Linked DNA regions of Homo sapiens: all the other regions are linked to region 3. Evidence: fine-mapped expression QTL. A gene starts in region 3. Each other region holds a variant in brackets. All regions are shown on one strand. Distances are from middle to middle. Region 1 overlaps EEF2K (eukaryotic elongation factor 2 kinase). Region 2 overlaps METTL9 (methyltransferase 9, His-X-His N1(pi)-histidine). Region 3 holds the start of IGSF6 (immunoglobulin superfamily member 6).

What was found. PIP is the estimated chance that this variant, and not a neighbour inherited with it, causes the effect.
Region 1: its variant is the best candidate, but not a certain one, in a credible set for the expression of IGSF6 in esophagus muscle (GTEx, PIP 0.61).
Region 2: its variant is the best candidate, but not a certain one, in a credible set for the expression of IGSF6 in whole blood (TOPMed, PIP 0.68).

The regions. Positions count from the first base shown.
Region 1 is chr16:22,227,668-22,230,432 of GRCh38, forward strand. The region is part of intron 2 of EEF2K (eukaryotic elongation factor 2 kinase); the gene reads left to right. Among named protein-coding and RNA genes, the nearest start is that of EEF2K, 23 kb to the left of the region's middle. The variant T/G (reference allele first, on the strand shown) is at 1,463.
Region 2 is chr16:21,607,551-21,610,315 of GRCh38, forward strand. The region is part of intron 1 of METTL9 (methyltransferase 9, His-X-His N1(pi)-histidine); the gene reads left to right. Among named protein-coding and RNA genes, the nearest start is that of METTL9, 9.4 kb to the left of the region's middle. The variant A/G (reference allele first, on the strand shown) is at 1,676.
Region 3 is chr16:21,651,267-21,654,031 of GRCh38, forward strand. IGSF6 (immunoglobulin superfamily member 6) reads right to left here and starts at 1,342. Exons shown (of 6, transcript NM_005849.4): 1 at 1,266-1,342. The coding sequence starts at 1,332. All of the region lies in intron 4 of METTL9 (methyltransferase 9, His-X-His N1(pi)-histidine), which reads left to right.

The DNA.
Region 1 (2,765 bases), 580 kb after region 3:
AATTGTTTACAGACTTAACAATCTCCCCATTTATCAGCAGAGACATTCAAGCGGAGAAACAAATATAATAACTATTAGTTACTTTGATAGAAACTTGTTTTAGGGACACTGAAAAAAATGATCTCATTTAACATTTATAGCTATCTTGGCTGGGCACAGTGGCTCAAGCCTGTAATCCCAGCGCTTTGGGAGGCCAAGATGGTAGGATCGCTTTAGGCCAAGAGTTTGAGACCAGCCTGGTCAACATAGGAACACCCCATCTTTATTAAAGAAAAAAAAAAAGAAAAAATGCTTACAGCCATCCTATGTAGTTACAGCTATGAAGGATAAACCAAATTCTTTTTTTTTTTTTTTTTTTTTTTTTGAGATGGAGTCTCACTCTGTCGCCCAGGCTGGAGTGCAGTGGCACAATCTCAGCTCACTGCAACCTCCACCTCCCAGGTTCAAGCAAGACTAAATTCTTATGAATCATTACTTTTGAAACAATACCTAGTATTGTGTGTCACACATTATAGGTGCTTAATAAGTGTTATTTCCCTCTCTGTTGCCACATTCCAGGAGTGTGGTCCTAATAATTTGTCACTGATTATGAGAATTAATATATTTTTTAAAACCTTTCCACAAATTAATTACCTTTTCCCAAATTTGTTTACTGATTAAAAGCTCATACTGTGGGCTGGGCGCGACGGCTCACACCCGTAATCCCAGCACTTTGGGAGGCTGAGGCGGACAGATCACAAGGTCAGGATTTCGAGACCAGCCTGGCCAACATAGTGAAACCCATCTCTACTAAAAATACAAAAATTAGCCGGGCATGGTGTTACAATAAAACTCCAGCCAAGGAAAAGACAAAGAGACCTTTGGAAACCAAAGAGAACTTTATTTAATTCAGGTACCCGGGCCGACAGCAGGCCCACGCCTAAAATGGCTGCCGACTGGGACACAGAAAGCAGGCTTGCTTATATGTCGTTTGAGGAGGGAAAACAAGGCAGGATACAGGTTTCAGACAAAGACAGTAAATTATTTAACACGTGACAATTCTGAGAAAACATATAATTTAGTTATCTTGACCAGTCAACTTTGAAGCTGGACAGCTCGAGCTTCGGGGTAAGGGAAAACAGGAATTACAGAAATACGCGGGGGTCTGGAGGCAGGCAATAAGCTTGGAAGATTGAGATAAGCTCATAGCTGCAACTTGTTAGCAATGCTGGGAGGGGCTGCTTAAATTTCTTAGCCTATGTATAACTTCTAAATAACCTATACTTAATGTTAACTATTACTTATGTTTATTATTTTTAACTTTATTATTACTTATTTTATTTTCCTTCCACAATGGTGGTGCATGCCTGTAGTCCCAGCTTCTCAGGAGGCTGAGGCAGAAGAATCCCTTGAACCCAGGAGGCAGAGGTTGTGGTGAGCCGAGATCGCACCACTGCACTCCAGCCTGGGCAACAGAGGAGAC[T/G]CCATCTCAAAAACAAAAAACAAAAAACAAAAACCTCATACTGTGGAAGGTTTCCGTCTCAAGTGTCTTCTACATTTGTCCAATTTTGTGTTGAATATTTTGAAAGCACCCCTGCATATGCGTGTATGTGGGTACAGAGACATATGTGCAATGTGATCCTTCATGTTGGTTATCGTAAAAAAACAAACAAAAAAACACTTTTTAGAGTTGGACATCCTTCTCTGGACTGAGGAAAAGTGTACTTATTTTGGTAGGGATTTGTGTTCATACCATAGCAAAGCTGGTATAAAGAAGACGGGGAGAAGCCGGGCGCGGTGGCTCACGCCTGTAATCCCAGCACGGGCAGGCAGATCACCTGAGGTCAGGAGTTTGAGACCAGCCTGGCCAACATGGCGAAACCCCGTCTCTACGAAAACACAAAAATTAGCCGGGCGTGTTGGTGCCACCTGTGGTCCCAGCTACTCGGGAGGCTGAAGCATGAGAATCACTTGAACCCAGGAGGCGGAGGTTGCAGTGAGCCAAGATTGTGCCACTGCACTCCAGCCTGGGTGACAGAGCGAGACTCCATCTCAAAAAAAGAAGAGGGGGAAAGGCGAACATTATTGGACTTTTTATAATAACTGGTGGGGGTAAAAAATCAAAAGTGCAATACCATTACCCTTTCTTAATCAAATCCTCACAAACAGTTAAGTATCAGTACTGTAAACAAAATGCCTATTACCACTTGGGGATTTGAAATTAAAAATAATCTTCCATAACTTCTGAATTAATCTGTTTTTAGAAAATTAATAATTTTAGTTCTTGGAGATAGTTGGGTAATGTTTTCCCTTTAGGCCTAGAGTTCTAGCTGGAGTTACTCTGGGGCAGGCAGCTCCAGAAATAGCCCCGTGGGTCTCCTCTGGGGTCCGGGGGCCCCTGAAGGGGCAGGTTTCCACTGATCCTGTTTCCTGTCCTAAGGCAGCTTTGAAATGAACACCCACCCCGAGGAGGACAGCTCAAGTGTCCGCAAGAGGGGCTGATTTAAATTACAGGCATTGGTTCTCACAGAATGCTGTGTTTACGTTAGAACAAAGTGATGTTTCTTTCCTTCTTTTTTTTTTTCGAGACAGGGTCTCACTCTGTCGCCCAGGCTGGAGGGCAGTGGTGTGATCCTGGCTCACTGCAACCTCCACTTCCTAGGTTCAAGTGATTCTTGTGCCTCAGCCTCCCAAGTAGCTGGAACCACAGGTGCACGCCACTATGCCCTGCTAATTTTTGTATTTTTCGTAGAGATAGGGTCTCGCCATGTTGCCCAGGCTGGTCT
Region 2 (2,765 bases), 44 kb before region 3:
TTAGATATCACATCCTGTTCTGTACTTGGCATCAGCAGATGACTGAATGGAATCATTCTCATTTGATTAGAATTTGTCATTTAAAAGATTCCCTTGTTTATTTAGATGAAACAACATTTGAGTGAGCTTTAAAGGCAGATGCTAATAAGATGCTTTTTCAGACATGGTAGGCTCCAGCCAAGGAGTCCAGCCTCACAGTAGAGTGGGCGTGTAGTCCTGTCAGTGTGTGAATTTAACGGGCATAGTACTTTGTTCTTGCCTGTGCACCTTTGTCTCTGTAGTCTTTAAGGAGCACACATTTAAAGAACTCACCTGCGGCTGGGCGCAGCGGCTCACGCCTGTAATCCTAGCACTTTGCGAGGCCGAGGCAGGCAGATCACCTGAGGTCAGGAGATCAAGACCAGCCTGGCCAACATGGTGAAACCCCATCTCTACTAAAAATACAAAAATTAGCCAGGCGGGGTGGTAGGTGCCTGTAATCCCAGCTGCTTGGGAGGCTCAGGCGAGAGAATCACTTGAACCCGGCAGGCAGAGGTTGCAGAGAGCCTAGATCACACCACTGCACTCCATCCTGGGCGACAGAGCAAGACTCCGTCTCAAAAAAAACAAAGAACTCACCTGCTTGAAAGTACACAGGAGCATACAGACAAGCCACCCAGTGCTGCGAGCTTAGCGTAGCTTTTTATCTAAGCTGGTTGTTTGGAGAGAGGTGAAACCAGGAGTCCTGCCCATTGGGTTAAAGGGGTTCCTGCAGATTTTTTCTCTCCTTGGTCCTTGGTATTTCACCTTAAGGGCAAGGTGACTGCTCCTTTAAGGCTCTGAAGCTCCTCGCCAAGATCATAGTCACATTACTTGTTTCCCTTGGTTTCTGATTTTATTTTCACTCTGGAATGTAAGTTCTCTGAGGCCAGCGAGTCCATCTTTTAATTCAGTCAGCTGGAGTCCCTAGACCATAGTTAGGCTGGGATAGTGGGAAACACTACTGGAGAGTCAGTACAGTGACATTTTGTGGGTAAGGCCATGTATGGGTTCTCAAGCAGTGGCAGTTTTGCCTCCCAGGGGACATTTGGCAATGCCTGGGACATTTTGGGCTGTCATTTGGGGTAGTGCCACTGTAACCTGATGGATAGGCACTAGGAATGCTGCTGAACATCCTACAATGTGCAGGTCAGCCCCTATAACAAAGGATCATTTAGCTCCAAATGTCAGTAGTGTGAAGGCTGAGAAACCCTGGCTTACAGGACTTTAGTTACTATCTAGACCAGATTATCTTTTCTCTACACACATGTAGTTCAGTTTAATTGGCAGGATAGTCCTGCTTTCTTTTCTTTAGCAGACACACTGGGTAGAGTTAAGTGAAGAGAAGCTTCTTTGAAAGAAACGCTTATAAAACAACACGTACCTGGAGCAGGAGCTTGAATCAGCTGGAGCTGCTTAGGGACCCTATGCTTCCCATTTATTCAGAAATTGCAAGGTGGTAAATGAAATGTAAAGCACATGGCTTGGTGCCTGGTGCATGATAGGTGCTCAGTTGGTGTCTTCCTTCATTGCTTGCTTCCTTGCTTGTGGTAATGCAATTTTGTGGTGAGTGGGTAGCTGTAACCACTGGTTGCAAAATTAGGTTTAAGCAAGGCCTTGCAGAGTTTGAGAAATTGACAGAAACCCCATGGCAGCG[A/G]TCTCTGTGGTTATCCTTATGTTTCCTCTAGGATTTTGTTAGAAACTCCAAATTCTGTTTAGGCTGCCTGTTGATGAACATTTATTGTTTGTCTGTATCTGTGCCAGGCACTGAAGCCATTCATTTTCTCTGCCTTTATGAAGCTCTCAGTCTACCTGGGAAGATAGGCACTGAACATGCGATTGTCTACAATTATTCAATTCAGAGATTGTAAATATTACCAAAGGGACAAATGGGATGTATGAAAGGGTATTAGAACAGGGGGCCTAGCCTAGCCTTTCGTAGGTATATTTTCCTTTGAAAAGAAAATATACCTAGGAAATATTTAGGCTGAAGTTGAACGAACCAGGTGAAGAGAGAGTGGGTTAGGTGGTGGGAAATGTTGGGGGGCAGAGCAAATACCATGTGAGACAGCCACGGGAAAGGGGCCTTCCAGAAAAAAGAAGGAAGGGGTGGAGCTGTGTGATGGAGTGAGGGTCCAGGGGTCATGGGTTGGTAGGGAATGTCATGAGGTGAGGCTGGAGACACAGAATGAACAAAAATCGTGCAGGGCCTTATAAGCCATATTAAGCATTTTGGATGTTATCCTAAGATTCCTGTTAAGCAGGGTAGTGATGTGATCAGATTTGCATTTAAAATTTGCATTTTAAGAGGTTTTCTAGGTTACTTATGTTTTCAGGCCACTTTTAATTTCTGGAAGATCTAACTGCCACCTGCATATTTAGGGAGGGGTGTGTGTGTGTGTTTAAAAAACAGCTTTATTGGGATATAATTCACATACCATGAAATTTATCCTTTTAAAGAGTACAATTCATTGATTTTTAGTATAATCACAGAATTATGCAGCCATCACCAGTATTAATTTTGGAACATTTCATCACCCCAAAAAGAAACCTCATGTCCATTAGCAGCCACTCCACATTGTCCCAGCTCCCCAGCCCCTGGCAGCCACAATCTACTATCTACTTTCTATCTCTGGATTTGCATATTCAAGACATTTCACGTAAGTGGAATTACACAGTATGTGGTCTTTTGTGACTGACTTATTTCACTTAGCATAATGTTGTCAAGGTTCATCCATGCTGGAGCA
Region 3 (2,765 bases):
CTTGACATTTAAACAAAGCTGTCTCTCTATCTAGTAAGTAAGAAGTAAGTAAATGTCTTGCTCTGTTGCCCAGGCTGGAGTGCAGTGGCACAATCACAGCTCCCTATAGCCTGAAAGTCCTGGGCTCAAGTGATCCTCCTGCCTCAGCCTCCCAGGTGGGTGGGACTGCAGGTGCAGTGCAGGTGCCATCACGCCCAGCTATTTTTTTTTCTTGTGTAGAAATGGGGGTCTCATTATGTTGTTCATGCTGGTCTTGAACTCCTGAGCTCAAGTGATCCTCTCACCTTGGCCCCCAAAGTGCTGGGATTACAGGCATGAACCACCACGCCCAGCCCAAAGCTTTATTATATTAGATTTCAAATTTCTAACATATCAAAGTAGCGAAGTAGTACAGTCAACCCCCTGCCATCACATGGCTTCGACCCAATCTTGTTTCTTTTCTCCTCCCACCTACTCCCTCACTCCCATATTATTTTAGAGCAAATCCCAGCCATTTTATCTGCATCTTTCAGAATATATCTCTAAAAGACAGGAATTCTTCTTTAAAATAATGCTAATTAAAATAGTCTATGAAAGTAATATATACTTATTAGCAAAAAACAGGTTATTAAAAGTAGAAGCAAAAAGTCACCCATAGTCCTTTTGCCTGAAATAACTCCCATTAACATTTTGATATATTTCTTCACAGATGAGAAAAAATTAAGAACTTTCCCCCCTTCCCTGCCCTATAATCCAAATTGTGTGGGCAAATCTGAGATTACTAGATGTATTGGAAATCCTTTCTCTTTCATAGATAAAAAAACAGAAGTAGACAGAATTTTAAAAATAGATATACTATGGGATGGCTATTGGAGTCATGGCAGTTTTTTTTTTCTTAAATGAAAAGTACTTTTATAGAAATTGTTCTTTGAAAATATTCAGCAAATAATCATTTATTGCTTTCTATGTGCAGATCAAGTTTGTATGATAATTAAATTATTGATAACTTATACCTACGATTTTAAGAATATTTTCAACCCTTTGGTCAGATTGTCTCCAATTAGCATAATAGCAAAGAGACTTTTCAAGGTTAATATGAAACTTTTTCTCAGCTATTTTTTTATTGTCTATTTCTCAGGGGAAAAAGGAAACTTATCCTCTTAGGCAGTTTTCATAATGTTATACATTTAAAAATTAATCTGAAGGAGCTTAAAATATAAATGCATTAGGTGAAAAATAGCAGTTGATTTAAATAAAATGAAGGAGGAGAAGAAAAAGAACCTTACCGACACAAAATAGAATGAGATTGGTTTGCAGATGGCGAGCGATGTTGCTTCTGCTCGCAGTCCCCATTTCTGTGTATGCCGGGGCGGGTTGGGGTGTGTATTTGAAAGGAAAGTTGGCTTTCTTTTTTCAGAAGGGAAGAAGAGCTGAAGAGAGGAACCTCTTATGAAGGAACCATAATCAGGAACTTTTTGAAATTGTGCAAGGATGGCTTCACCATTTAACATTGAGATTTTGGCCTGGAGCACATTTAGAAATGTGCATATCTTTTTTTTTTCCATGGATTTTACAGTTGTCATAGGTGTTAGATGTTTCTGGGTGAGATTTTGATTTACACCTAGCACATATTTCCAGGAAGGAGTATTGTTTGACAAATAATTCGTACTTGGATTTTTCAGAACAGTTCAGTCACTGTCTAGGGTACCTGCTCTGGGTGCCACTCTGGGCCAGTAACTGCTGGGAACAAAGAACAGCAGAAGGAGAAGTGGCTTTGTGTAGAGATGAGAAAAGTTAGTAAACAACACATTCTAATGCAGCGAATAAATAAATTGTCTGTTATTAACTTTTTGTACTCCAGTTTTGAATCCAAAGACACCTGCCTTCCCCCCTTTTTTGACAGGGTCTCTATCACCCAGGCTGGAATGCAGTGGCAAGATTGCAGGTCATTGCAGCCTCAGCTTCCTGAGTAGCTGGGACTACAGGCATGCACCACCACCCCTGGCTAATTTTTTTTTTTTTTTGTAGATTCTGTGTTGTCTAGGCTAGTCCTGCCCTCAAGCGATCCCCCTGCCTTGGCCTCCCAAAGTGTTAGGATTACAGGTGTGAGCCACCATGCCTGGCCCAAAGACCCCCTTTTAATGTGTTGAGAAACAAATATGTGGGCCCTCTGTCCTCTGTGTCCTCTCCCCCAGCACTTAGTGGTGATTCAGTAAGGGTCTTCTTTGTAAAGCAGCAGAAACAGACTCAGGCTGACTTAAAAGGAAATTTATGCAAACATTTGAAGGTAGATCCTAGAGTCACTGGGAGGGCTAGTGAATCTTGTGTGGGGTCCACAGCCAGGAAGAATGCCTCAAATCACACCATAAACAGGTCTGAAGAGGATGCTACTGCCACTGCCAAACACTAGGTGCCATCAGCCCTGTTGTCAGCATCGCTCAACCACTGCCCCAGCCCCTTGGTCTCACTGCCATTGCTCCACCCCCAGAGAAGGAGAAGCTCACATCCCCACTACTCTGGGTCACTGGCTCTCCATTCCAGGGCATGGGCAAGTGTGCCTGGCTTAGGCTGCGTGCCAGTGCCTCAGCTGCACGGCAGGCCAGGAAAGCGGCTCCCAGGCCTTGTGTCTCTCCCAGACTCTGGGCAGGCAATTCCCCAGACATGGGAAGAGCGTCATCTGCACCACTGAAAATTATGAAAAATCTCCCCACCATGATATGATGTCTGTGCCCTTGGCATCTGCTCATGATATATTTTCTCATTAACAGAAAGTTATTCTCAGTCTG